4 linked regions of the Homo sapiens genome follow. The protein of the gene in region 3 interacts with the protein of the main gene of each other region in a pairwise test. Each region holds a gene or a part of one and is shown on either strand. Other genes may lie near its edges.

Evidence for each region.
Region 1: the proteins of CCDC116 (region 3) and PPP1R16A interact in binary tests that used the Homo sapiens proteins (3 or more experiments, as listed by UniProt).
Region 2: the proteins of CCDC116 (region 3) and CARD10 interact in binary tests that used the Homo sapiens proteins (3 or more experiments, as listed by UniProt).
Region 4: the proteins of CCDC116 (region 3) and ZNF655 interact in binary tests that used the Homo sapiens proteins (3 or more experiments, as listed by UniProt).

The regions. Positions count from the first base shown.
Region 1 is NC_000008.11:144,473,869-144,480,996, forward strand, and holds the start of PPP1R16A (protein phosphatase 1 regulatory subunit 16A), read left to right. Parts: upstream 1-4,113; 5' UTR 4,114-4,259; intron 4,260-4,482; exon of another isoform or gene 4,483-4,685; intron 4,686-4,717; exon of another isoform or gene 4,718-4,814; intron 4,815-7,128. Other genes in the region: FOXH1 (forkhead box protein H1), read right to left, coding at 370-1,188, 1,289-1,393, 1,715-1,888. UniProt on the Homo sapiens protein: Inhibits protein phosphatase 1 activity toward phosphorylase, myosin light chain and myosin substrates.
Region 2 is NC_000022.11:37,495,412-37,502,430, forward strand, and holds part of CARD10 (caspase recruitment domain-containing protein 10), read right to left. Parts: intron 1,768-7,019; coding exon 1,608-1,767; intron 1,150-1,607; coding exon 1,038-1,149; intron 593-1,037; coding exon 349-592; intron 176-348; coding exon 106-175; intron 1-105. UniProt on the Homo sapiens protein: Scaffold protein that plays an important role in mediating the activation of NF-kappa-B via BCL10 or EGFR.
Region 3 is NC_000022.11:21,627,752-21,635,760, reverse strand, and holds the start of CCDC116 (coiled-coil domain-containing protein 116), read right to left. Parts: upstream 3,002-8,009; 5' UTR 2,934-3,001; intron 2,782-2,933; exon of another isoform or gene 2,778-2,781; coding exon of another isoform or gene 2,580-2,777; coding exon 2,508-2,579; intron 1,740-2,507; coding exon 1,191-1,739; intron 1,077-1,190; coding exon 495-1,076; coding exon of another isoform or gene 117-494; exon of another isoform or gene 1-116. Other genes in the region: YDJC (carbohydrate deacetylase), read left to right, coding at 5,747-5,910, 6,000-6,159, 6,354-6,453, 6,574-6,751, 6,974-7,343.
Region 4 is NC_000007.14:99,554,712-99,561,657, forward strand, and holds the start of ZNF655 (zinc finger protein 655), read left to right. Parts: upstream 1-3,930; 5' UTR 3,931-4,076; intron 4,077-4,113; exon of another isoform or gene 4,114-4,310; intron 4,311-5,821; 5' UTR 5,822-5,848; coding exon 5,849-5,984; intron 5,985-6,946. UniProt on the Homo sapiens protein: Probable transcription factor.

The sequences.
Region 1 (7,128 bases), on a different chromosome or scaffold from region 3:
GCTGGATCCACCACTGGGCTCTCCCTCCCCCAGCCTGGAGCACGGGAGGGGAGGTGACGGCTGGTGACTGATGGATGGGTAGTGGGCTGAGAAGAGGGGACTAGGAAGGGCTATTCCAGGCTCAGCCCTGCTCCTGCAGCTTTGCCGCTGAGTGTAGGAAAAACAGGCATGACAGACCAGGGTGAGGGTTGTGCCCAGCTGGGCCACGGCCATGCGTGGGGTGGCCCAATAAACACCGTGGACTCCCAGCAAGGCTGCTGCCTGGTGTTTCGAGGCTGCTGTGGTCGCAGACAGCCGCCTCGCCTTGGCTCCCTGTCAACAAGGTGGGGGTGGGAGCGGGAGGGAGGAGTGGCCCCTGTCTTAAGAGCCTCACAGGCTGCACCAGGAGAGCAGCCAGCCTGGGCCAGGGGCCGCCAGGTCCCGAGGGTGGCTGACCCAAACGTCGTAGATGCTTTTGTTGGGTGGCACCCCTTGGAAGAGGGCGTCTAGATCGCAGAGCAGCCCTGGGGGCCCTCGGGTTTCAGGGGCCACCCCCCAGTAGGCAGGGCTGGTTGACGGACACTGGGGACAGGAGGTGGGTGGTGGTGCCAAGGGCATTACCACATTGGGAGTGTAGATAGGCAAGTAGGAGGTGGGCAGCTGCCCCCAGAGGGAGGCCCTGTGTCCCCCGCTGGACCGTCCCCCAGGAACTGCGGTGCCCTGCAGTAAGTGGAGAGGCCAGGCCCTAGGCTCTGGGGAGAGGGTTGAGGGCCCGATGGCTCCCCCCTGCACAGTCTCCCCCTCCACTCTCGTGGGGCCAGGAAGGGGGCAGAGGGGCCACAGAGGCCTCTCAGAAGAGGGAAGGGGTGGGGTGGGCACCGCCTCCTCCCCACTGTTCCCTGTGCCTGCAGGAACTGGGCTGCTCTGTGGAGCTAGCCCCGGCCAGGGTGCCCCCTCCCCGGACCCTCCTAGCAGGGACTTGATGCTGAAGCCCTCACTGGGTGGTGGCGGGGGACTGGGCGGCCGGTATGGCCGGCCGTGCAGCACGTAGGGGCCCAGGTCCTTGGCGAAGGCTCCACGCGCACCTCCGTTCTGCCAGCGCCGGCACAGGGCGGTGTTCTGCAGCCGGAGCGCCTCAGCTGGGATCAGGCTCACGTCGACCGCCCAGAAGTTGCCCTTGGCCTGGGGCTTTGCAGGGTCCTTGGGCACCTGGGTGTGGGGGTCAGACATGGGTGGGGCTGCCCAACCTTGGATGCTCAGGACTTCCGCGCGCGCTCCGCCCCCGGGCTCCGACCCTGGCCTGCCCCACCTTGCGGAAGCATCGGTTGGAGGAAAGGTTGTGGCGAATGGAGTCTTTCCAGCCCTCGTAGTCTTCCCTGAAGAAGGGGAACACGGCCTGGACCTGACGGATGATCTGAAACCGCCAGGCGGCCGGCCGGCGCCGTGAGCCCAGACGGGGAGGGGGTAGCGCCCTACCCCTCCCCCACTACCGGGCTCAGGGGCGCGCGGTGCCGGCCCCTGCTGTCCCCGAAGAAGGACATTTCTGCGCGGAAGCGCGGCAGAGAGGGCAAGGGGCTCCCGGAGAAGGGTCGTGCCTTGAGGCCCTCAGCTCTCAGGACTGGTCCCACTGGCATACCTGGGTGGGCTAGGAAGGGGTGGGGGTCAGGGCTTGAACCTGGAAGTGGGTGGGGAACGAGTCTGGGGAAAGAGAGAGTGGGGGCCGGGGCCCGCTCACCTGGGCCAGCTTCAGTCTGCGGGAGGGAGCGGCCTGAATCACCAAGGCGATCATGGCCAAGTAGGTGTAGGGGGGCTTGTCATGTCGCAGGTACCTCTTCTTCCTCCTCTTAGGGGGCTGGGAGGGCGACTCTGCCTCTGGGGGCCCCAGGCGGGAGCCGCTGCAGGGCCCCATGCGGGACGGTAGACAGCGTGGGCAGGGGCCTGGCCGGGTGGAGGGTGCAGGGCGGTGGGGCAGTGTAGAAGGCAGGGCCGGGACCTGAGGCCGGGCTGGGGCAGGCGGGCTGGGGCCTTTATCATTCGGATGGAAGGGGGAGGGGAGGGAAGGGAGGAAGAGGCTGTGGGGGAGGGGAGCATGCCGAGGGCTTCCACAATTAGCAGGTTTTGGTTAATCTGGAAGGGAGGGGCAGAGAGCATTCTAGTGGGGGCTTCTCCTGAGGCCTCAGTCTCCACCCCTGAGTTGCCTTTGGGTGGCCAGGCCCGGCTTCAAAGGGGCTGCGATGACCCATGGCTACTTTATCCCGTCTTCCCTGGTCAGGTTTCAGGACCCCATTTAACAAATGGGGGAGTATTTAGCCCATGCCAAGCTCCCAAGGCGTGGGGCGCTCCTGGAGTTCAAGATCTAGCAGCTGCTAGTAGGCCCTGAACTATGGGGGCTGGATATCCACCCAGGACATGATCAGGTGGAGCTTCCTGGAGGAGAAGGCCATGAAGCCCGCACCCTAGGAACAAGAGGGGGACACATTGACTCAACTGATTTCCTGGGAGTTGCTTCAGGAGCCCAGGTGGACCGCTCACCTCCTCCTCCCTAGCCATCTCTGCTCCTCCACCCAAGCAAGGCTGGTATTGTGTATCCTGCCCCAAAGCCCAGGTTCTCCTCCCTCACAAGGGGCAAGTTTGCCCAAGAGGATAGCAGCTCTGGGAATTAGCAGCGGTGGTTGGTGCTGGCACCAGGCCAAGGGCCCCCAGACACACGGGGGCCCAGGGATATGCTTTTGCCCTTCACTCTGAGAATTCAGCTTTTCTTGTGCAGCCTCCACCATGATAACCTCAAAGGGCTGAAAATCTGCAGCATACGGTGGGGTCCAGCACACCCTGAGGTGTGGAGGGGAGGGACAGGCAGCAAGTGTCCAGGAGGAGGAGGCCTGGGCCGCAAGGGGCCTTGTATGTGGGGTACCACACTGCTCCTGCCCCCCACACCCCCGGTCGGGTGGTGCCCCTTTTCCTTCTATCTCTGACTCTCCCCTCAGACGCCACGTGGTTTCCCTCAGGACTCCTGCCACCACCTCTCTGCTGTGTTCCCTAGGTTATGGCTGCACAATCCTGTGCCTCATGAGGCTAATACTTGTGGCCACTTCACCCCATTCGGTCAGCAAGGCGTCGTTCTTTCCTACAAGTGTTTGTTGTTGTTGTTGTTTTGAGACAAGGTCTCACTCTGTTGCCCAGGCTGGAGTGCAGTGGTGCGATCTGGGCCCCGTGCAGCCTCCACCTCCCCCGCTAGGGCGATCCTCCCGACTCAGCGTCCCGGGACTACAGGCGTGCGCCACAGAGCCCAGCTAATTTCTTAATTTTTGGTAGGGACCGGGCCTGCCTATGTTGCTCAGGTTGGTCTCCCGGGCTCAAGTGACCCACTGGCCTCGGCCTCCTCCCAAAGTGCTGGGATCACAGACGTGAGCCACCGGGCCGGGCCTTTCCCATAATTTTTTTTTTTTTTTTGAGACGGAGTCTCACTCTGCCGCCCAGGCTGGAGTGCAGTGGCGTGATCTCGGCTCACTGCAAGCTCCGCTTCCCGGGTTCATGCCATTCTCCTGCCTCAGCCTCCCGAGTAGCTGGGACTACAGGCGCCCACCACCACGCCCGGCTAATTTTTTTGTATTTTTAGTGGAGACGGGGTTTCATCAGGTTAGCTAGGATGGTCTCGATTTCCTGACCTCGTGATCTGCCCGCCTCGGCCTCCCAAAGTGCTGGGATTACAGGCGTGAGACACCGCGCCCGGTCTCCCGTAAGTTTTAAGGCACCCCCCTCTCCACTGGCGCTTCCTTGGTGGGGCGCTGGAGGCTCCCCAAGTTCTGACCGCTCTTCTCCGACCGCACTGTCCTGGGCCCGAAACCACCCCCAAAGCTGCCACCCATTCCGCTGGCGCCCGTCCCGTTGCCCGCGATGACTCGGTTTTGTCCAGCATAAATCAATGACCACCGTCCCGGGAGCCTTGGAGCACTTTGAGCCATTCCCGTCCCACCCACGCCCCAAGGAGGTCCCAGCCGCGGAGGACTCGCCCGGCCGCCCGCAGCTGTCCGCGTTGGCCCCCACCCCCGACCGTCCCTCCCCAGGCCCCGCCCCCGACATTTCCTCCTCCCAGGCTCCGCCCCCGGCTCCCACGGGGCACCGCGGCTTCCGGCTATGGGTACCGCGGGCCGGAAGTGTAGCGTTGCCATGGCGAGGGCCGGGTGCGGGGCCCGCCCCCGCAGCGCCTCAGGGAGCGCGGGGCCCACTGACCCGCGGAAGCCAGCGGACCCACTTGTGCGGCGGTCGGCGCGGGGCGCGAGGTGAGGCGCGGACTCCCGGGTCCTGCGGCGGGAGCGGAGCGAGGGAGAGGGGCCCCGGCCAGGGAGAGCAGTGGCGGGCCCGGGAAGGAGGGGCACTGGGTCGACACCGAGAGAGGAGGCCGGGCCGGGGAAGGATGAGGCAGAGGAGAGGGAGGAGGCCGGGAAGGGCGGGAGGAGGAGGAGACCGAAGGGAGAGAGGAGGCTGGCGACGGAGGAGGCCGGGGAGGGGCCCTCGGGAGACGCGGCTGCCGGCACGCGGGCGCCCAGGGCACAGGTCCCGCCGGGCCGCCTTGGGCGTTGCTGGCTGAGGCCCAGGGCAGCAGGTGCCAACGGTCAGGAAAGGCAGGGAGCCGAAGGCTGCCGGTGGGCGCTTCGCGTTTTGTTCCAAGGCGAAGGTGTGTGGATTCTCCGCAGCCCGTCGGTCAGGTAGACAGCTCCGGAATTGTCTTCATTTTCAGATGAGGAAATCGAGGCCGCAGAGAAGGGACTTACCCAAACTTAAGCTTTGTGTGGGCCTTGGAGCTAGGCTGAAGGAGAAAGTGGAGTCTCACTGGGGCAAGTTCCTTCAACTTTCAGGGATTCAAATGACCTCACTTGTAGTGCGGGGCGTCCGGACCACCCCTCAGGAATTGGGATCAGGGCAAGAATTACTAACTAAGCAAGCACCCCGCCTGGGAGGGAGCGTCCAGGACTGGTGTGGGCCCCTGTCTGTACCAGAGCGGAGGCCCGGGGCACGGTGGGATTAATTTCCATGGGTGCAGAGAGGGGAGCCGTGTACGGAGTCATTCTAGGCTTAGGGGAGACAGAGCAAAGTTAGCCTTCCCCAAACCTCTGTGCCTTCCTTTTCTTCCTGGATTCCTACCTGGGGGTGGAGGTGGAGGCGGGGGTACCGCTGCCTTTCTCAAAGTGTGTCTAGTCCAGCAGTGAGCCCTCCTGGGCGTCTTGGCGCCCCAGTTGCTTCCTGGACGTATTGGGGTTTCTCTGGGAGAAGGGTCTTGCCTGCAGTACCCTGGGCCTCCTGAAGAGGCCTCTGGTTGCGCTGCCTGATTCAGGGACCCAGAGCCACGACTCGCCGAGAGGAGCTCCGGCGGCGTGCGGCTGGGTTGCCTGAGGGGCTGGGGGCTGCCTGGTGGACTTGCACACATGCTGGCTCCATACCTGTCACTGTGGTGGACGCTCAGAGCTCTACAGGGCCAGCTGCCTGCCCCTGCCCCAAGTCCCCCGGGCTGGGGTTGGGATGGGGGTGGCTTTAGGGGGTCCTTCCCCCTCCTGGTGCTCGAGCTGGATTTCCTCCCTGTTGGCTGGGGCCATCCCTCGTGTCTCTGATTGGCCTGTCCTGGCCTCATCCCTCACCTGCTTGGGATGCACTTGGACTCTGCTTTGCCCCGAGGGTTGCCTGGGCTGGCACCTAGCAAGGGGGCTCCTCCTGTATGACTGTACTTTGGGGTCTGTGTTCTAGGGATTCTTGAACCTCTGGTCTGAATGAACAGCCGATTGATACAGCTCTCCACTGCATGCAGCTTAGGAACCTCAGTCTCAGGTGACCCCACAGACTACCAGCACCCCCAGCTCCACCCTTGCTCTTCCCCGAGCGTGTCCTAACCCTAGCACTTGTGCCACATCTATCCATTGGCCAAAATGAGAACTGGGTGGCAGTTCCAGGCCCTTCTTTCATGCCGAGGCTCTCCTGGCACTGGTGCACGCACACCTAAAGGGAGGCCTTTTCATCAGACTTGCTCAGCCAGGAGCTCAGAGCCTTCCATGTCACATCCTGTGCTGGGACCCCTGTGCCAGAGGCTCAGCAGCTGTTCACTTGTTCAGCTCACTGCACTTACTGAGTGCTGCCTATGAGTCAGGAACTGGCCAAGTTCTTAGGATGCAACAGGGAAACAAACAGTAACTGGCATGTCAAGAATTAAAACAAGGTGATGAGATAAGAGAATGACAAGGTAACCACAGAAGATCTCTGAGGAGGTTGCACTTAAGATGTGATCCGAGTCCCACAAAGGAGCATGCTGTCCTAAGATCCGGTGGAAGAACTTTCCAGACAGAAGGAGCAGCTGATGAAGGTGGCGGTGATGATGAAGCTGGTAGCACCAAATAAATGTGCTAGACCAGGGGTTGGCCAGCTTTTACTGTGAAGGGCTAGGCAGCAAACATTTTAGGCTTTGCTGACCATGTGGCTTTCTGTTTTTTTGTTTGTTTGAGATGGAGTCTCACTCTGTCGCCCAGACTGGAGTGCGGTTGCACAATCTCCACTCACTGCAACCTCTGCCTCCCGCGTTCAAATGATTTTCCTGCCTCAGCCTCCCCAGTAGCTGGGATTACAGGCACATGCTACCATGCCAGTTAATTTTTATATCTTTTTTTTTTTTTTTGAGACAGAGTCTTGCTCTGTAGCCAGGCTGCAGTGCAGTGGTGCAATCTCAGCTCACTGCAACCTCCGTCTCTCGAATTCAAGTGATTCTCCTGCCTCAGCCTCCCAAGTAGCTGGGACTACAGGCGCATGCCACCACGGCCAGTAATTTTTGTACTTTTAGTAGAGATGGGATTTCACCGTGTTGGCCAGAATGGTCTCGAACTCCTGACCTCATTATCCTCCTGCCTTGGCCTCCCGAAGTGCGGGGATTACAGGCGTGAGCCACTGTGCCCAGCCCATGCTTTGATTTTTTACATCAAACTTTATTGAGGTGTAACTTACAGTAAGATGCACCTATTTTAATGGGTTTTGTGTGATGGGTTTTGTTTAATGGGTTTTGTTTGATGGGTTTTTTTTTTTGACGGAGTCTCATGCTGTGTCGCCCAGGCTGGAGTGCAGTGGCACGATCTTGGCTCACTGCAAGCTCCGCCTCCTGGGTTCACACCATTC
Region 2 (7,019 bases), about 16 Mb from region 3:
AGGGAGGGAGTGTCTTCCTAGGTTGCCAGAGAACAGAGCCTGCTAGCTCCCTTTTGGACCCCACCCTTGGGGCCCCCCACCCACTACCTGCCCAGCCGTGCTCACATTACTGCGGGGGCCTCGGTGCCGGCTGGAGGGCAGGCATTTCTCCTGAACTTCTAGGAGCTGCTGGGCTCTGTGGGAGGGAGTGACATCATGTGTGTAGAAAGAAGGAAAGCTCCTCATTTCTCCTCGAACCCCCCGCCCTGTCCCAGAGGATGGTGAGGGAATGCAGGTGGAGGGAGAGCACCCCCATCTGAGCCCTGGCTCCCAGGGGGACCCCATCCCCAGCTCCTGGCTCTGCGTCACCTCTGATAATTGGGCACGGTGCCCCGGTCCAGGTCCCGCAGAGTGAGGGGGTCAACCCGGGTGCAGAACCATTCCTGCCTCCGCTTGTATGCCGAGTCCACCAGTCGAAGGATCTCTTGGGCTTTCACGCAAAGGGCATGGGGATCTGCCCTCTCAGGCAAGGTGAGGTTGGCACGAATGTAGAAGGGCTCGGCACCTGGTCCCTTTGCCCAGGCTTCTAGGGCCTCGTGGAAGGACTGGCAGGCTGGGCATGGATGGGGCAGGGGGCAGCAAGGAGGACAAGAGGAGGATGGTGAGGTCCAGGATCGGCCTTGGTGGGGCCAAAGACATGGCCCTCTCGAGGCCTGAGTTCCCAGGACCCGACCTTCACCTTCTTAGAATGACTTAGGTCCAGAGGGGGCAGGGACTTGCCCAAGGCCAGTGCCTTCTAGAAACAGAGCCAGGACTCAAACCCAGGTCTCTGGACTCCTAATGTAGTGCTCCTTTCACTGTAAGCTGCTTACAGAGGGAGGCATAGAGAAAGGGCACAAGGACAGACAGAAGGAGGCATCAGCAGGCGGGGAGCCAGGAGAAGGGCAATTGGGGCAAGGCTGGTCCCTTCTCAGGTCCTTGGTCCCTCCCCACCCCATGCACCACGGGTTAGAGGACCCCTCTGGGGCCAACAGCTCCGACTCCCAAGCCAGACTTACCCTTCGAGTCCATCAGGGAGGGGAGTGTGGACCCCTGATTCCAGAGCAAGGTTCTCTGCTGGGCCTCGGCTTCCAGGCACGCCCCCTCCAGACCAGCAGCTTCCACCCTTTGCTGGGAGAAAACCCAGGCAGGGAGGGAAAGAAGTGAGCCTCTGAGAGTAGAGCAGCCCAGGGGCTGGAGGAAGACCAGGTGTGGGGGTGTTTCATGCCTCACAGTTCAGATAGCGCCCCCTCAGAAACTGCCATGCCCAGCCCAGTCAGACCCGTCCCCATCCACAGGACGCCCCCATCCACAGGACTCCCCAACCCGCCCAGCTCATCCAGGTCTTTCTCGACTTGAAGCGCAGGAATGTAACGTGCTGTCAGTTGGCTCCACCTCCCAGTCCCTGCCCAATCAGACTTCAATTAAGCCTGGCTGAGCAGGCAACCACAGCTAATCACTGAGCCCGCTTCGGCTTTGACCAATCCCCAGAAGCTCTGCCCGGTGATCTTGATCCACCAAATTAAGGGATGTCCAGCCTGGGCAAAAGCACTGACCCTACCCCCCCAGCTCAGGAGGCAGGGCCTCACCTCTCTTGGTTCCATCCTGGCGGACCCAGGCCCAGACAGCACCCTGCGCACCACAGCCCCAGACCATCTGTCCCCATAAAACGACAGTCCATCTGGTCCCTTGTCCTGCGGCTCTGGGCCCCCTGGGGGGCTCCGGCCAGACACCCGAATAGCCAGAGACCTGAGAAGGGAGAAAGGAGATGAGAATTGGAGTCCAATCAGTACTTGGATTCAGTTCAGCATTCTTGGAAAACCACAGTGATTTCATTTCCCAAGTATGCCATGACTCCCACCCCCAGGCCTCTCCATCTTCTGTGCCCTCTTCCTTGCCTTCTCCACCTGGGAAATGCTGATCATCCTTCAAATCTCAAGTCACAAGCAGCCTCTCCCCTGGACCTGGGCACACGGTGCAGTGGAGCCTGCGTGCCACAGAGCACTCCAACTTTGCCTTGCCACGGCCCTTTCGTTTCCTCCATCAGAACGAACACCTTCAGGACCAAACTTCTATACTGTTCCGCTCTGTAGCCCTGGCACCAAACCCAGTGTCTGGCACATAGCAGATGACTAATAAAAGCTTGTTATATAGCCAAGCACGGTGGCTCACGCCTGTAATCCCAGCACTTTGGGAGGCCGAGGCAGGCGGATCATGAGGTCAGGAGTTCGAGACCAGCCTGGCCAACATAGTGAAACCCCATCTCTACTAAAAATACAAAAAAATTAGCCGGGCGTGGTGGTGGGCGCCTGTAATTCCAGCTACTTGGGAGGAGAATTGCTTGAACCCAGGAGGCAGAGGTTGCAGTGAGCCGAGATCGAGCCACTGCACTCCAGCCTGGGCAACAAGACTGAAACTCTGTCTCAAAAAAAAAAAAAAAAGCTTGTTATGCTCACAGTCTGAGGAGGGAGGTCACCATTAGCACGTGGCACAGATCCAAAGGTGGTTACAACCAGCCGTGGAAGCAGAGAGAGGCTTCCCACGGAAGAAGTACCTAGGCTACACGCTGGTGAAGAATAGATGCACTTTGGTGACAGATGGAGGAAACAGAGTTCCAGGCTGAAGGAATATATCAGAGCAAAGGTGTGGAGGACAGAACACAGGATGCGTGGAAGAATTTAATAATAACAATAGCAGCGAACACTTCCTGGGTGCTTTCCATGTGCCAGACACCATGCTGAGCTCCTTGCCCTAATTCTTATTTTACATCCTGGGAAGCAGCTCCCAGGAAAGGCAAGCTGGAGCCACCCTTTGGAGGGCGTGGAACAGAGGCGTCTGGTTTTCCTCCCATGGGCAGGAGGACCACTGACAATTAAGACGTCACCAAAATCCCCATCATGGTAGGGTTCTGCCTGTCCCTGGATGAGAAAAGGTGAGGCCTTGTGGCCAGGCTCAGAGACAAATGGACCCCAAGTCCCCTGCCAGACACCTTGGCCTGGAGGAGGTGGGGAGACCAAGGTCAGCAGGTGTGCTGGCTGGAGAGGCAGCGGGGCGAAGCATCTCCATCCACCCCAGCAGCTGCAGCCCAGACACAGCTGCACTGCCCCCTGCTGCCAGCCTGGGGAGGGCGCGGCTGCAAGGACCTCCCACCCAATCGGCACTGCTGGGGAACAGCCCCGCCCTCTCAGGTAAGACACAGAGCCAGGCCGAGGGGCTGGACAGATGCAGGCATGGGAGGCATCATTCAGTGCCGCATGTCCTGGCTGCATCGAGGTGGCATGGAAAGGGGGCAGGCCTGAGACCTGGCCTGGCTATGCTGGCCCTGGCTTTGTGGCTGGAGCACACGGTCCGCTCCAAACCCCAGGGCAAACTGCACCCTAGCCTGGGCAAATGAGCCGGCTGCTGAGCGTCAGTTACCACATGCATAACACGAAGCTGACAATGACACCCCTTGCCCTCTGTGGGTGCTGGGGGGTGGGGGGGGGGGGCACATGAATAAAAGATAATGCAGGGAGAGGTGGAAACCAGAGGACTCTGGGGCCTCCAAACTGCAGGCCTGGCCCTTAGTGGCTGGTAACATTCACTGGGTTGCGACTGGGACAGCTGGATAATGCTATGGAATAGAAAGTACAATGCTATCCCCCACCCCGCTCCCGCCACCCCAGGTAAATCCAATTATTATCTCATGACCTTTTTGTTCCAGGCATGTGTACCGGGTTTCTCTCACTGTGGGTTGTGGTCAGATGGTCCGAGAAGCACAGCACGCAGGGTGCCAGCAGGAACTCTGGGGTCAAACGGCCCAGCTGCTCAGCCGCTTGAGCCTCAGCTCCACCCACCTCCCTGGCTACTCGCTGAGTTTAGACATGGGCAGCTCTCAGAACAGGGCCCAGGAGACACTAAGTGCTCTGTCAAAACTAGACATTTACTGGCATCAGGTGTGATTCACAACAAATCACCTCTCGCTTGCCTCAGTTTCCCCACCTGTTTCAAACCCACAGACAACTGACCATCATGGCCTCTCCAGACCAGAGCCCAGTAAGCAGCTGGCATCCAGGCTCTTCCACCAACCCTACCCACCCCACCCACCTCTACTCGCTCCCTCCTCCACACCTCTCCCCTCTGCAATGCAAGCATCAAGGCTGACCTCAGCTTTCAACTCAGGTTTTTCAGGCTCTTCTTGACAACTCCTGCAGCTCCCTGAAGACCCAGCTCAGGCGCCCCCTCCTCCAGGACGCCCTTGCCAACCTCCTCAAAGGACCAGTGACTTCTCTGAGCCTCCACAGACCAGGAATACCTGCTCCCAGCACTCCTCGGAGTCTGCAGAGCCCACAGGGGCTTGCCCAGAGCAGGGTCCAGATAGGGTTCCTCCCAGCCCCCCGCCTCAGCAGACAAGCAGGAGGGGTAGAGAAAGGACACAGCAGGGAGAGGGGCTGCCTGCTCCCCGCTCCTGGGACTGGCTGACCAGCTGGCTGCCTGTGTGGTACTAGGAAGCACAGTGTCCTTAGCTACCAGCTCCCAGCCCCCTCCCCAGTCAGGTCAGGTCACAGGCAGACAGGAACGGGGCAAGTCTGCCAGCTCTGCCAGCTCTGAGCAGTGACAGGCCACATGGCCTCAATGAATGTCCCCCAGGGCCCCGTGGGAAGATATCTGAGTAGTCTGCGTGCCTGCTTGGTACCAGGTCAGGGACCTGATGCTGAGACTGAAGCATGCCACACAGATCACCTCAGTCAATCCTCCTGACAACCCGATGGTTGAGATAAGGGAAACTGAGGCACAGGAAAGTTAACTTGCCAAGAATGGGCACAGCTAGTGGGCCGTGGAGCCAGGCAATGACTTATGGGAACCCTCTCTTTGCAAGGACAGAAGGTGCCAGAGATCCCCTGGGGCCACGTGAGCGAGCTGGGCAGTGGTGAGGCTATGCTGGGGAGACGGCACCCCGAAACCCTCCAGTGCTCTCCATGCTCTGCCTCTCTCACCCAGCACCTCACTTGCCCCATGAGTTCTCCCTTGCTGTCCCCCACCTGACTATCTGTCAGCCCAACCCCCGGTCTGCCCCAGCCCCCCACTATCCACCATCCCCTCCCGGCACCCAGGCTCCAGGAGCTGAGAAGGGCAGGGCAGAGAGGCTGAGGGCAAGAGATGGGCAGGAAATGGGAAAGAGGAGAGAAAATGCCCAACATGGTGCCCAGTACAAAGTGGGCACACAATACGGATGTGAGATCTCCAACAGCTGAGACAGTGGGGAGGCACATCGGAATCTCCAACCAGCTCCGAGGGGCCTGTGACTTGGGACCAATTTCTAACTGTCTCTGTACTTCAGTGTCCTGGTCTGTGTAACGAGGTTAAAATTCCAGCCTTGCAGAGCTGCTCTGAGGATTAAACAACAATGGCGACAATAATCATAACTAACCGCGAGCATATGCTGACATCCACCGTGAGTGTGCTAAGCATTCTAGAAGGGATACTCAAACCCCCATAGTGACCCTAAGGGACAGGCACTATGTGAGCCCATTTTACAGAGCAGGAAACTGAGGCACTGGGAAATTCAGAGACATGCCCAAGGTCCCACAGTAGCAAGTGCTGACACCAAAGCCAGCTCTTCCCACCTCGCCATAACACAATCCCAGGAGACACACAAGTTGCCCCGACCTGGGACCTGTCCGGGCCCTCATCTCCCTCTCCCTCTCCTCTCCGCCTGTCTGCCTCTCTCTCTCTCTTTCTCTCTCTCTCTCTGTCCACCACCTCTGCACCTTCCCCAGCCTGTGTTCTTCCCCAGGAACCTCTCTCCTCCCCAGGAACAGCATGGGCAGCAGAAGTGGCCCCATGTGATCGTGGGGCCTGGGCGGGGCTGGGACGGAGGCTCCTGCTCCCTGGCTGCATCCTGGCGCCCCCTGGACAACAGCCAGGACCCCTGCTGCAGCCCAAACTGGAGGAAGGGAGGAAGGGCCGAGGCGAGCAGGAAGGGAGGCGCCTCCACCCCTTCCCCGAGAAGCACGTCCTGCACAGGCAAAAACAATGTCTCGCTGAGCCCACTGCCGGGGGCCAGGTGGGGGCAGGGCCTGGACACTGGCTGACCAAGCCGCTCCGGAGGCCAGAGGCCCTGGTCCTATGCTGTACCCATCTGCTGCGTGACCCATCCCTCTGCACCCAACACCTCCACATTCCAGCGCTGACAGTCCATGTTTCCTATGCCCTTTCCAAAACCCAAATCTGATCAGGTCACTATGAACCCAGACCTGGTACTTCCCAACTGTGGGACCCTGGGCAAGTTGCTTAACCTCTCTGAGCCCCAGTTACCTCCTCTATGGAGCAGAGATAATCGTCATTATGCCTACTCCCTGGACAAAGAGCATGTTGTAAAACAGCCAGCAGCTGGCCTTGCAGTTAATAACTAAACCCTCCCACATTTCCCAGAGTGTACAAGCCAAAGTCCACACTTTCCCAGCCTGACTCAGGAAGCCTTGACTTTCGCCCTTCCCCCTCGCTCCTCCTCCACAGTCACCGGATGCTCTCCCTACCTGCCCTCTCCTCACAGCTGAGTTCCAAGACCACAATGGCCGTGCAGCCCCCGCTCTGCCCCACCCCTCCCTTAGATACACTGGCAGGTGTGAACAGCGGCCACGCACCGGCCACACTAACAGCACGTCGCCTACAGTGCACTCTGCACTAATGGGCTTTGTGACTCCTGTTATGGACCTGTGGCTGGCCCGGTCACAGGGGCTCCTGAGGTGACCCAAGCCCACCCACAGCATGAAACTTTGCTGGGTGGCTCAGTCCCAGGGACTCAGAGCCAAGGGACTGACAGGCAGGACATTGGGACGAGGACAGCTTGTAAGTGACAACTATTACTAAGCACCTGCTACATGCCTGGCAGAGCTGGGTGCTTTGCTTCTGCGAGCAGAGCCCTCAAAAGACCTCCATGCAAAAAGGGTCATCATCTCCCTTTAGCTACTGAGGAAATGGAGGCCCAGAGAAGTGAAGGGACCAGCCCAAGTCACAGG
Region 3 (8,009 bases):
TGGTAATAGCTAGGCCAGGATTCATGGGCCCCCATCAGCTTGACCCCTGCCCAGGAGGTTTCCACAGTGCAGGGCAAGAGACCTTGACCTTGAGCACCTGTTAGTGACAGTGGCTGCTAGGAGTGGTGGGTCAAGGAGCCCTTCTCCTGCAAACTCATGCCCGGTCCTACTTTTGAGGAGGTCACCTCTGGACACAGTGAGGCGGGAGATGAAGAGGCAACTGGAGAGAGCTCAGGGAGAAGGTAGCAGGAAGAGCGGGGGTAGGGGGAGGAAAGTGGAGGTGTGACAGGGCCCCTGAGGTGGCCCTGGCTGCAGGCCACCTCCACCACAATCCCTGGCGTGGGCAGGGTGAGGTGCAGGCCCTGCCAGGGCTGGGCCCTCTGGCTGGAGCTCAGGGAAACAGGTGGGTTTTGTAATTTGGGATCTGAGTCAGGTGCCTCCTCCCTGGAGTGGAGTGAGGGGCTGGGGACATTGGGCTTCTCCGTGGGTGTCACCTTGAGTTTGAATCTGGTGGCCACCTGGGCACTAGACATGGAGGGGGAGCCTCCTCTGTCCTTGCGTTTTCTCTGAAGCATCTTGGGGCTGGAGACTGTGGGGCGGGGGGAAGCATAGGGCTGCCCGCCATTGGTGGGTTTAGCTGGCTCAGAGCCCAGAGGCGGCAGATCTGAGGTGGGCTCCAAGCTGGTGGGGAACAGAGGACGGCCGTCGCGGCAGTGGGCGCCACGGAGCTTATCCACAGCCTGGCTGACCACGCTTTGCAGGGCAGGGAAGAGGCGGTGGTCAGCCAGGAAGTTCAGCGTGCGATGGGGCTCACGGAGCGGACAGTAGCCAGGCAGGTCGAGGGACTCCAGCTGGCTCAGTAATGACTTGATCTCCTTATTGAACTCTCGCTTGCGGAAGATTGGCTCCTGTTCTCCAGGCCTCGGCTCTGATGCTTCAGGCACGCCAGAGCTTGAGCCCAGCAGCCCTGAGAACCAGGACAAGGGCTGCTCCTGTGTCCACTGAAAGCTGGTCTGGCTACCCAGCGAATCCCACAGCAGGGAGTCCCTCTGGGAGCAGGACTGACTGAGGCCTTTCTGCAGAAAGAGGGTGACTCTGTGAAGTGTTCAGGAGCAGCCAAGCCAGGGCTGACCCTAGCCCTGGGCTCTCCATGGGAGTCCACCCCACCCAGCCATGGCCCTGGCTCTCACCCCTTCCCTCTCCAGCTGTAGCAGCCGCTTGAGGTTCTTCTCCAGCAGGAGTTTGTCCCTCACAGGTGGCAATGAGCCTTGGGCACCTAGGTCACTGTCCCGGCTGTGGGAGCCCAGACAGCCGGCCATGAGGCTGCTATGGCAGTTGGACATGGAGCTGGAGCTGGATGGGTAGTTGTTGGGGTGTCCAGTGCAGAGGGTCGGCCGTACACGGTGCCGGTGTACGGTGCTGAGGCTGGGCCGGGCATGTGCCCGCCGTCCACCACTTGGCACCTCCACTGGGTCCTGCACCTCCACAAGCGGCACCCCAGCCTCCGTCTTCATGGCAGCCATGCGCTCAGTCGCCTTCTCCACCACTGTCTCCAGGCTGTCCAGGACCTGGCTCTCAGTTAGGAAATCCAGAAAGTGGCCAAAGGGCTGAGGGTGCCTCTTGTTTCGGCGTTGGCCCTGGAGTGCTGAGCTGCCACATGTGGATGGTGGGTGTGGCACACGGCCCGGCTTGCAGGCTGGCCGCATTTCTGGGACCAGTGGCTTCTTGGGCAGCTGCACCTGAGCAGACAGGTATGTCACAGGGGGCAGGGGTGCCCTACAGGTGAAGGGTTCCCTGGGGTAACACTAGGACCTGGGTGGGAGTGAGTAGTGGAAGGAGCTGCATTTTGGAGTCTGGAAGCCCTGGGTTTGGACCCTGGCTCTGCCACCTACAGCCTGATGCCAGTGTGCAAGATGGCCCCTCTTGAGGTCCAATGTCCTCATCTGCAAAGTGGAGGTCTATTCAGGGTCACCCCGAAGCTTTCCTAACACCTACATTTCACACACACAAGTCCTGGCTAAGGAGTCTGCAAGCCTGCTTCTGCCCTGACACGTGGCAGGATGAGCAATCATGAATCTCTCGGAGTCTCCCTCCAGCTCCTCATCTGTCCATGCAGCAGGCCATCCCTGTATCCATGGCAGGGCTGCAAACAACATCTGAGGTCTTGAGTGCAGACAACACCTGAGGTCTTGAGCCCTGTGCTACCCGGGCCTGTTTCTCCAACTTGAGCCATAGGCACCTAGTCAACTCCATGCTCCCACTCTAGGGTCCCAGTCCACCCAAGCACCTTCTGGGTCGCTGGAAGTCAGGAGGAAACAAGGAATGAAATTGAGTGTGACAGGGGCAAGCAGTGGGGGACATAGGAGAAGTCAAGGCAATAAGGACTTCACTAAGAGGCCCAGAGAAGTCAATAGACAATGAGAAATGGGGGTTGTGGTCTTGGGTGCCAGGGTTGGTGGGGAACATGTTGTGGCCTCAAGGGTCGGCGCCCTGCTGGGCACACTTACCCGTGCACTGCACATGGAGTGGCTGGCCTCGTCATCGGCCAGGTAACCCGAGTGGTGGCGGCACCTGGCCATGTGGTCACCTGGCAGGTGACCGGGCCTGCTGCCCACCTCTCTCTTCAGCTGCGCATTCCTCTCTGCGTGGGGTGGGGAGACAACCTGAGGGTCTCCAATAGGTCCACGCATCTGTGGCCCTGGAGTCTGCGGGTCCCTCGCTCCCCGCACCCCGCCTCCTTCATGCATCCAGCCCTTCCTCTGCTCCATGGCCCCCATGCGTCTGCAGGCAGGCAGTTTCCAGAGTCATCGGGGTGGAATCGCTGAGGACAATCCTGTCTCCGATCATCTTTGGATCTGCGTGTGCTCGACCCGCCCTCCTCCCAAACCCTGGGCAACCTGGCTTTCACCCCAGCCCAGAATCAACAGACTCACCAGAAACACCGCCTTGCTCCGCACAGGCCAGTACAGTCTGCGCCCTCACTGGAGCAGCTGCACAGTGCGAGGAAGTCGGCTGGCGGCCTCCACTTGCTTATTTGCATACCACATCCTCATTGGTTCTTACCGAGGAGCTCGTCCACTTCCCTCTCCGACACAATGGTTGGGGGCGGGGCCCACATTGGCCCCACCTCCAATTCTCTGGGCTCTGCCCTCCCACACTCGCCTGGGAGCCGCAGGCTGAGGATGCTGGTGCCCACGCTCCCCGCTGCCGGGAGGACCCCCCACCCACCACCGAAGCTGGGGCTAGGCTCTTTGATCTGCTCCTGCCCCGAGGGGAGCCTAAAAGCCAAAGCCACGTCTTCCACCGGTGGCACAAGCACCTTCCTCGTGTCCTCCTTGGTTGCTGCGCAGCCCTGGGCCTCCTGCTCCTGTTCGTTTCCAGGGGCCTCTGCCCTTCCCGCGGTGTGCACAGCCCCAGGTTCTGCCTTGAGACCTCTCCCCTCTGCAGTGGAAAGAGTGCCGGCTCTAAGTCACAGACCTAGCTTCAGTTCCTGGCTCTGCTCTTTCCTGCCAATGTGACTCAACCTCTCAGCATTAGTCCCACACTGTAAATGGGCTTGAGTGTTCTTCCAATATGGGAGTATGGGATTCAATAAAATCTCCCTACAGCACACCCAGTAACCCAGTGGAGCCTTGTGTATTCTTTAATTAATTAATTTATTTATTTGGAGACGGGAGTCTCGCTCAGTCGCCCAGGCTGGAGTGCAGTGGCGCAATCTCGGCTGACTGCAAGCTCCGCCTCCCGTGTTCACGCCATTCTCCTGCCTCAGCCTCCCGAGCAGCTGGGATTACAGGGGCCCGCCACCACGCCCGGCTAATTTTTTTGTAGTTTTAGTAGAGATGGGGTTTCACCGTGTTAGCTAGGATGGTCTCGATTCCCTGATCTTGTGATCCGCCTGCCTTGGCCTCCCAAAGTGCTGGGATTACAGACCTGAGCCACCGCGCCCAGCGGAGCCTTGTATATTCTTACCTCCTCTCCCTCCCTCCTTTTCCCCTTTGCTCAGTAATACCCCACCATGGTGTCACTTCTTCCAAAAACCTTTTACTGTGAATTCTGCCACGCCCTACGCAATTCACAGTAAACCCCATTCCAGACTCTACCATACCATGTTGCTACTTATTTTTCTATCAGATGGTGCTTCTTTGGGGCCAGAACAGAGGCAAGTCACCCTTAATCTCTAATACTTTCAGTGTCTGGCACCAAGTAGGTGCTCAATAAATGTCAGTCTCCTCCTTCCCACCTGCAGACCCTCGGGACCTCTGACCTTTCCAAGATCAGCTTCCAGTGGAGAACGGTGGTTGGTTGAGGTCTGACAATTCACCAGTCACTATAAACACATCAGTCCTTATGCCAAGAGCATGGCTGAAGGACTCTATGAGGCTTTCAATCCTCACATGCCTCACGAAATATTGTTCCTCTCAAGCTCTGCTCTGTCCTCTCAGCTCTGGCTACCCACTAGGTCAGGGACAGAGAGGACATAGCAGGCCTGGGTGCTGGCCCCGAGGTGTGAGGTTCAGTCTTAGCTCCACTACTCCTGGCAGGACCACACTTTCGCTCTCTGAACCCCAGTTTCCTCATCTGTGAAACAGGAATGACATTACCAATTTCATAGCCCGGACACAAATACCACACTTTCCATGGGAAAAATCAAGACTGTCACATTGCAATGGAAACTGTGGCTGCCAACCATAATGACTATTTATACAGTCATGGGTAAGGAAAGCTTTTCTGGACCAAAGAGAAAACAGTGAAGTTATGAATGTAAAAGCTGTAGCCTGGCAGAGAGCTCAAGATGGAAACTGGAGATAATGTTTTCTCAAATGAAGCCTTAGTGTATATGCTTTCTTTCATTTTCTTAGTGTCTAGAGCTCAAGAAAAAAAAAAAATCAACAAATCAAGAAAATGCCTGCTCTTAGAAAAATCTGCAAAAGATCAATAGGCAATTTGAAAAAGAATAAAAATAGCTAATAATATGAAAATTTTCATTCGCACTGCTAAGAAACTACTAGAATGTGATAACATTGATATAATCATCTTTATGTTCTCAAAACAACACACAAAAAAGTTGGGTTGGGGAGAAAGGGAGTTGGGTGTGTTTATTTGCTTAGAGAAAACACTGGAAGGACACAACCCAGAAAGTTTACAATGGCAATCTCTGGGAAGGGTAGGAGATTCTTTTTTTTTTTTTTTTTTTTTTTTGAGACGGAGTCTCGCTCTATCGCCCAGGCTAGAGTGCAGTGGTGCGATCTCGGCTCACCACAACCTCCGCCTCCCGGGTTCAAGCCACGCTCCTGCCTCAGCCTCCCGAGTAGCTGGGATTACAGGCGCGTGCCACCACTCCCGGCTAATTTTTGTATTTTTAATAGAGACGGGGTTTCCCCATGTTGGCCAGGCTGGCCTTGAACTCCTGACCTCGTGATCCACCCGCCTCGGCCTCCCAAAGTGTTGGGATTACAGGCGTGAGCCACTGCGCCCGGCTTCCTTTTGATATTTTACATATTAAATATCACTTTTGCAGTCAAGGAAAGTTCCGCATTGCAATGAATCCATCACTGGTCTGGTTAGCGCGGGAGCAGTTGCCGGGTCCTTGCAGGGGCACGCCGGACCGCTAGGTGGCGAGAACAAAGGCGAAGTGCAGCCGCACCTGGGCGTGTGCGTCGGGGCGGGGCCCGGGCAGCGTCCGGGGGCGGGGCCTGGGCTGTCCGGCCCACTCCCCTGGGAGCGCGAGCGGTGGACCCAGGCGGCCATGTCCCGCCCTCGCATGCGCCTGGTGGTCACCGCGGACGACTTTGGTTACTGCCCGCGACGCGATGAGGGTATCGTGGAGGCCTTTCTGGCCGGGGCTGTGACCAGCGTGTCCCTGCTGGTCAACGGTGCGGCCACGGAGAGCGCGGCGGAGCTGGCCCGCAGGTGAGGGGAGGGCCTCTAGCAGGGCGGCGATCGGCTTGGGGCGCGCGGCTCCGCGGCCGCTAGTGCTCCAGCTCGCGCTCCGCCCTCAGGCACAGCATCCCCACGGGCCTCCACGCCAACCTGTCCGAGGGCCGCCCCGTGGGTCCGGCCCGCCGTGGCGCCTCATCGCTGCTCGGCCCGGAAGGCTTCTTCCTTGGCAAGATGGGATTCCGGGAGGCGGTGGCGGCCGGAGACGTGGATTTGCCTCAGGTGCGGAGCCGCAGCTACAGGAGGATGCTCGCGAGGACCCCCAGAGCTCCGCCCGGAGGGTACTGTGAGGCCGTTAGGAGCTGGCGGTGGATGACTTCCGCATTCAAACACTGGAGCCATCACACGGAAGCACGAGGAGGGTATCCTCGGCAGCTACTCCCGGTCGCTCAAGGTGTCTCTCGCTCGCCCTCTAGGTGCGGGAGGAGCTCGAGGCCCAACTAAGCTGCTTCCGGGAGCTGCTGGGCAGGGCCCCCACGCACGCGGACGGGCACCAGCACGTGCACGTGCTCCCAGGTGCGTGGTTAGTGATCCCAGTTTGGAGGGCGTTACTCCCAGGCGGGGCTGGGGGAGTAGGGGAAGTTCGATGCCCCCAGGTGAAAGGACGTGCTCCTCCCTGACCCGCTCCGCCCGCAGGCGTGTGCCAGGTGTTCGCCGAGGCGCTGCAGGCCTATGGGGTGCGCTTTACGCGACTGCCGCTGGAGCGCGGTGTGGGTGGCTGCACTTGGCTGGAGGCCCCCGCGCGTGCCTTCGCCTGCGCCGTGGAGCGCGACGCCCGGGCCGCCGTGGGCCCCTTCTCCCGCCACGGCCTGCGGTGAGGCTCCCCGCCCCGTCTCCTACCATAGCTGCCTCTGTCCCTCCGCACTGGCTGTTCACCTGGCTAGCTGTGTCCGTTTCTCAACCCGGAAGCGAGTCTGGCGTCGACCGCTGCCGCCACCCCAGTTACCCCCTCCCACCCCGCCGTCCCTTCCCTAGCCTACCTAGCCCTTGGCCATGGCCCGGCCTGGTCCCACCTCTGATGTCCCGCCCCCCACAGGTGGACAGACGCCTTCGTGGGCCTGAGCACTTGCGGCCGGCACATGTCCGCTCACCGCGTGTCCGGGGCCCTGGCGCGGGTCCTGGAAGGTACCCTAGCGGGCCACACCCTGACAGCCGAGCTGATGGCGCACCCCGGCTACCCCAGTGTGCCTCCCACCGGCGGCTGCGGTGAAGGCCCCGACGCTTTCTCTTGCTCTTGGGAGCGGCTGCATGAGCTGCGCGTCCTCACCGCGCCCACGCTGCGGGCCCAGCTTGCCCAGGATGGCGTGCAGCTTTGCGCCCTCGACGACCTGGACTCCAAGAGGCCAGGGGAGGAGGTCCCCTGTGAGCCCACTCTGGAACCCTTCCTGGAACCCTCCCTACTCTGACCCCCTACAGACAACCAAGCACTAATCCCCTTAGTACCAAGAAAGGGGAGCCAGGATTTAGTCCTGGCCCAGCCCAGAGCTGGGACCTGGAGCACGATCTGTTGACTTCCCTGGGTAGGACACTGCCACCTCTGGGCTCAGGTCCTCATGCCTCCAAATGGCATCTAGAGTTTGAGCAGCCTTCTTGGCTGCAGGCAGGCCTAGCCTGTGGCAGCGGGCTAGGGCCCGCAGAGCATTTGGTGCCCCTCCATGTTGCAATGCAAACACCTTCACCACTGGGGCAGTGGGGAGAGATGGCTATATTAATAAAATAACGTGTGTCTTTCAAACTTGGGTGGTTTATCAGCTGTGCCCAGGAGACCCTCAGAGAAACAAGCACGGACAAAGAGCAGCTCCCTCTTGGCTCAAACCACTCCAGGAAATGGCCCATTCTCCATTCTGGTTTTGTTCATGCTGCAATTTTCTTTATTCCTTTTTAGGGTGGGAGTGGGAGATTGTCCTCACCAGGCTGCTTTGGAAGAGGCATAATACTATAATCTCAGTATTGATTTAAGAAGTCACCTGTAGGCTGAGTGTGGTGGCTCACACCTGTAATCCCAGCACTTTGGGAGGCCGAGGCGGGCAGATCACCTGAGGTCAGGAGTGCGAGACCAGTCTGACCAACAT
Region 4 (6,946 bases), on a different chromosome or scaffold from region 3:
ACTGAGATAATTTTTCTTCACCAGTATGCTTCAGGGCAACGCGAGTGGGGCTGTAATGAAGAACAGTCTGTTTCTGGAAGATGCCAACATGCTGAACTGACCCAATCCCCAATCTGTGCAGAGGCCAAGGCTCTTCTGTCTCCATCAGTTAGTTGTAGGGAACTTTTATAAGGCCATAGGAGTAAGTTTATGGGAGAGGTGGCAGTAGAGCAGAGGTAACTGACCTGGGAGTTTGGAAACGTGGGTTTTGTTTTTTTGCCTTAGAAGGCATGACCTTGCTCCAGAATCTTAGGTATTTGTGCTGTGACTCTTTATGATGGGTTGAATTGTACCTCCACCTCATCCCCAATTAACAGGTTGAAGTTCTAGCCCCTAATACCTCAGAATGTGAAATTATTTGGCAATAGAGGCATTGCAGATGTAATTACTTCAAGATGAGGTCATAGTGGATTAGGGTGGGTCCCTCATCTAATGACTGGTATCCTTATAAAAAAGGGAAGTTTAGAGATAGTACACAGGGAGAATGCCAAATGAAGATGAGGGTAAAGACTGGGAAAATGCTTCTTACGATGCCAAGGAATGCAAAATATATCCAGCAAATCCCCAGAAACTAGGAGAGAGGCATGGACAGATTCCTTCTCACAGCCTCAATAGGAACCACACCTTAATTTCTGACTTCTAGCCTCCAGACTGTGAACCAACAGATTTCTGTTGTTTAAGCCACCCAGTTTGTGGTACTTTGTTATAGGAGCCCTAGCACACGAATGCACACTCTTATTGGGGTTTGCCAGCAACTCCATACAGCACCTGTATCCATCAAGGATATTTCTGGAACCACTGAATTTGCAAGTAAGCTTGCACTGTTGCTTGGATTTACTATAGAGTGCTCTCTTGCCCCAATAAAAAGTGGAAGCTGGCCAGGCATGGTGGCTCACGTCTGTAATCCCAGCACTTTGGGAGGCGGAGGTGGGTGGATTGCTTGAGGTCAGGAGTTCAAGATCAGCCTGGCTAACATGGTGAAACCCCTCCACTACTAAAATACAAAAATGCTGGGCATGGTGGCGGGCGCCTGTAATCCCAGCTACTAGGGAGGCTGAGGCAGGAGAATTGCTTGAATCCAGAAAGCAGAGGTTGCAGTGAGCCGAGATCACGGCACTGTACTCCAGCCTGGGCTACAGAGCAAGACTCCGTGTCAAGAAAAAAAAATAGTAATAAATAAAAAGTGGAAGCTTTTTAGGTCACCTAATACATGTGTTGGAACAGTTTTCTCAGGTGCAGAATATGCTACCTCCCAAATCCAAAGGGGCCCACCAGGACCTGTACCAATTTTTTTGGGATTAGAGGGTGCAAGGTGGAACAACTTTCTTTTACCTTTGGGTGATGTCCCCAAACCACTGGGCCCCACCAAAACTTCATCCATTTGATAAGTGCCCATATCTTCAGGTTTCTGTACTGCCTTAGTAAGAAGTCTTACTAGGATATTTATGACCCTTGTCACTTGCTGCTCACTGGGTACTACTAGCATTTGTCATCAATATATGGACCATCATGATGGTTGGGTAAAGTTCCTGCGGACTACACTGTGACAGAGAACAGGTCTCAGGATCCCACCCTCTCCCTGTATGAGCCACGACTTTGACTCAGGGGACCTGCCGAGTCTGCACAATTGGTCTCCTTTACATTACTGTCACTGTTACAAACAGATCCTCGGCCTAATTTTCAGCTTAGCTAGATGCAGAATTACCTTAGTAATTTATAAAAAATCAGCTATTGTATGTATCTAGATCTATTTCTGGACTTTTTTTTCTTTAAGAAATTCAACCTCATATTTCTGGACTTTCTGTTCTGCTCTGTTGATCTATTTGTCTCTATGCTGATACCATACCATCCTGATTACTGTACCTTTAGGAAAAAAATCTTAAAAAAATACAAGTATTCCAATTTTATTCTTTTTCAAAATTGTTTTGGCAATCCTAAATCCTTAGCATTTCTATATAAACTTTAGAATCAGTTTGTTAATTTGCACTAAAAAAAACAAAACAGGCTCGGTGCAGTGGCTCACGCCTGTAATCCCAGCACTTTGGGAGGCCAAGACGGGCGGATCACCCGAGGTCAGGAGTTTGAGACCAGCCTGGCCAACATGGTGAAACCCCATCTCTACTAAAAATACAAAAATTAGCTAGGTGTGGTGGTGCCCACCTGTAATCCCATCTACTCTGGAGGCTGAGGCAGGGAAAATGCTTGAACCTGGGAGCTGGAGGTTGCAGTGAGCTGAGATCGCGCCACTGCACTCCAGCCTGGGCGACAGAGCAAGACTCTGTCTCAACAACAACAAAAAGACAAAAACGAAAAAAGGTAACAATTTTTTGAGTTGTTTCCACCTCTGTCATCTGGCAAACTGTTAAAAGAAAATTTTGCTCAAAAGCAAAATAGCAGCTGCTGTTTCTTAACACTTTGTTATGTTTTGATGAGTACTGGTGGGAAGTGGCCTCTTTAAGTGGGTACCTTTTGTGGTCCTCTCACTGGAGCCAATTGCCTGAGTCAGCTAAAACTTGGACGCGATGTGCCTCACTGCCATAGCTCACTCACCTTTGCTGCTGAAATGGTTTCCCATCACATTGCTAATAGGTACAACCTGTGAAGGGTTCTAGGTGGGGAAATGGCAACTCAGGAAGAACTCCAAACCTTTAGCTCTCCTAGGATATTAAAATGGCCGTTATGAAGAGGAAGAAGTACTGTGTCATCTATTGTCCTGGGGACCTGTCAACAGGAACAATAGATAGACATCACCAGGGGTGTATTTCTGTTCAACACAAGGAAAAGTTTCTAATTGGAGCTGTCCAGCATGAAATGGACTAAGCAGTGCATTTTCTTTCTCCGATCCTGACTCCACTGTGACGGGCACTGCAGACTAGAGAGATTGTGTCCTAGTATGAATTTAGGTTGGATAAATGATACTTAGGGATAAAGAGAGGAAAGGAATATCAGAATCTCCAAGAAGCTGATACATTTTGAAAAAATATATAAAATGCCACACTTCAGGTTTTCTTGTGTTTAATTTGAAACGTCCAGTAACATTAAAGAACAGCATTTGATTTGCTTAAACAAAGTAGTAACAGCTGAAGTTCCTTCCAAATCACTTTTCTGATTCTCTAAGAGGCTTGCCTATGCCTTGCAGATCTAGCTTCACCTACAAGACATATTCTGTAAGGATCCAGGTTCAGCAAGGTGTCAGAATGTCCTAAGGGTTTCTGTCCCGGCGCTCTGCCTGTCCCGCTTGTGCACAATGCTTTTGCCTATCCCTGTTTCTGCATAGATTTTAGTCTTCCCACCAGGGACGCAACTGTCAGTTTCCTCCGTCTCTCTCGGTTCTATTCCAATCTGCTCATCTCCCCTCCCGTCCCCGCTTTCCCCAAGGACCTACTGAGATTTCGATCCCACAACTTAGTGGGTCCCATCTCACCCAGGCCCCGCAATCCTCGCCTTCTACTTGTCAGCGTTGTACTACACTCTGAGCAGGCACCCCTGTGCTACTCACGGAAGCGGGACCATTAGGTCGGCCATTCCTCCTCACCCCACGACACGCACCCACTGGGTCGGGCCGCCTCCTTGCAGGGAGTCTCAAGGATGGGCTGGCGTCAGGGAGGGGCCCAGGGGGCGCTTTCCCAACACTGGTCGCAGTCATTGTTGGTATAACGGCTAGAGACGCCCAGTGAGTTAGCATGGAGGGCAGTGGGACCGGAAAAAGACGTGGAAAAGCTGCGAAAACGAGCCTTCGAATCATGGACGCGCGGGCCCAGCTCCTCCTCCGAGTTCCTCATCCGGGGCCGTCACTCACATCCGGGGCCCTCACTCACATCCGGGACCCTCATCCGGGGCTCTCACCCACATCCGGGACCCTCATGCCTGGGCGGAGGAGGGGGGGCCCTCATTCGGGACCCTGCACTCCGTCGCCGGAAGTGCCACCGAGAAGCGCCGGCCTCGGGGCTGTCTACAGCGGCCCGGGAGAGGCTGTGGTGGCCCCGAGCGCGAGTGTGTAGGTGACAGGACAGCGGCCAGGCCCGCCCCTCCCCTCGGTGAGTACCCGGAAGCCGTTTTGGGGTCGCAGCGGGGTGGCAGCTTGTTTTGCCTTCACGGGAGTAGAAGGAGGCGGCGTCCGGCCGCGGCCGACGGTAGTTCGCTTCCCCGAGAGTGCGCGGAGGCCCGGGTGCGAGGAGGGCCTGTTTCTCTTCAGCCCTGGTTCATTCACCTCGCGGACCGAGGGCCCCGCCGTCAGGAGCCGGCGACCGTGCCCTGGTGCGAGCTGGTCTGTATGTCCTCACTGGTCCTTTTGGGACTTTGCCTTGGCCTAAAAGGGAAGTGGGAGGAGGGCAGCGCCGGGCAAGGCCTTCTGAGGACCGAGCTGGGAGCCGGGCAGGGGCCCAGGGCGAGGGTGGTGGGAGGGGGACGGCACCCTCATGCGTCCTTGGGCCTGAAGGACGCCGCTCAAACCTGTTCGAACCGCAGCTCTTACCTGCGTTGCTCTCAGGATTCCGGGAAAAGGCCGGTCTAGCTGGTCTGAGTTAGCGAAGGGCCTGACCCCAAAAGTGGAGTTTTATTCGCCAAGCCCGTGTAGTAAATCGGAGTGGGCTGACGGTGTTACCAAGACATTTCCTAGGGGGCCTGCTGTTTTATTTATTTAAATGAGTTTATTTACGTAAACGCGGGCCTGTCACGGTGGTTCACGCCGTAATCCCCGCACTTTGGGAGGCCGAAGTGGGAGGATCGCTTGAGGCCAGGCGTTCGAGTCCAGCCTGGGCAACATAGCGAGACTCCCATCTCTGCTAAAACAAAATTAAAATAAAATGAGCAATCATAACTAGCATTTTTCTCTGGGCACCAACTTGAGCCTCCAAAGACGATTGTAAATTTTAAATATTTTGTTTTGTTTATTTGAGGTGGGCTGTCACGCTGTCATACAGGCTGGAATGCAGTGGCGCAGTCATAGCTCACTGCAGCCTCTACCTCCCAAGCTCAAGCGATTCTCCTGCCTTGGCCTTTGGAGTAGCTGGAACTACAGGCCTGGGCCACCTAATTTTTTTTTTTTTTTTTTTTTTTGTAGGGACGGGGTTTCACCATGTTGTCCAGGACGGTCTGGAACTCCTGAGCTTAAGGGATCCACCCGTCTGTGCCTCCCAAACTGTTGGGATTACAGGCTTGAGCCACCGCACGTGGCCAATTTTAAATATTTTAAAGTTTCCACAGAAAGCTTTACACTATTAAATTGTACCGTGTTAATTTTTTTAATGCCACAAATTCCAAATTAGAGACTCTTCTATGATTTGGTTCTTAAGTATTTAAAGCTGAAGCATATCCATATTTCTTTTTCTTTTTTTTCTTTTTTTTTTTTTTGGGACGGAGTCTCACTGTGTTGCCCAGGTTGGAGTGCAGTGGTGCAATCTTGGCTCACTGCCACGTATGCCTTCTGTATTCAAGCAATTCTCCTGCCTCAGCCTCCCGAATAGCTGGGATTACAGACCCGCACCACCACGCTGGCTAATTTTTGTATTTTTAGTAGAGAAGAAGTTGCACCATGTTGATCAGGCTGGTCTTGAACTCCTGACCTCAAGTGATCTTCCCGCCTCAGCCTCCCAAAGTGCTGGGATTACAGGCCACTGCGCCTGGCCCCATTTTTCTGTTACTTATTTAGGGTGGTTAATCATTATCAACTAATTTTTATTGAATATCCATAGTGTGTAAGATCCTTTGCAAAGTCCTGACGATATAAAATGATGAAATGCTTTAACTTATTACAGTAATTTCTCTTAATCTTACCTTGCAGTGATGGTCATTGTCCTCCAGAGCAGTGATGGAGGAAATACCAGCCCAGGAAGCAGCAGGGTCACCAAGGGTCCAGTTTCAGTCTTTGGAGACCCAGTCTGAGTGTCTGTCCCCAGAGCCTCAGTTTGTGCAGGACACCGACATGGAACAGGGACTCACTGGGGGTAAGGCAGAGAAAGCACTTCCGTCTGGGAGAGTGGGAGTGCGGAGGGGCTCCCGAGGGGGCTCCTGGGCCTGGTTTGAGAGAGGCCAAGAACTGGAATAAGAACATGGTCCCTAGAGGGAGGAATGAAAGAGGGGGCAGATGTGACTCAGTTCAGTCCTAGTCTGAGCCCCTTTATTAAGGATAGCTCATCTTTCTCAAATAAGCAGAGTGATGGCTGCTTACTCGCTGTGGTGGTTTTTCCTTCAGGCAACCTTCACTTCATCCCAGTTCTCACATCCAGAATAATTTCTAAGATATGCTGCTTTTGCCACATCTCACAGTCCTTTCCTGGCTCTCACTTCCTCTTAGGTTCAGGACCTTTCTTTCCCCTGTTCCCTTCACTTAGTTTTTCTTTGCTTTGTCACCTGCCATCCATTCTGTTGTAACTGCAGTGTTTTGTGACTAGACTAAATTTGGTCAAGGAAGCAACCATTTAATTCCTTGGTTGAACACAATGCCTGTATGAATGTATATATACTGTATTTTGACTACGCAGTCACACTTTGCTGTATCGTATAGGTAGGTTGGTCTTTTTCTTCCTTTGTTTTATAAGAGCTGTGTCTTAGATTGCCTGTGGTTAACTCTAGTGCCTGAAATAACTTGTGTGTCACCCACACAGATCAAGTGCCACAATGTGTAGAGTGCTGTGGGGGATTGTGGGACTGTGGAAAAGATTTCGAGGAAACAGATGACCCTTTCTTGTTCTTGGGGGCCTTACACACTGGTTGAGACAGCACCCATTCACAAGAGAAACGCTGATCAAGTGTCTAGAACAGTGCCTGGAAAGGGTCAGAAGTCTGCTAAATAACCCTAGCCCAGGACAAGTCCCCACAAGTCTTTATGCTTTGCTTTGCCCATCTGCAAAACAGGTATAGTCTTACTCTTCTGTAAGAGGACTGTCATGTGATGAAGATAAAGTGA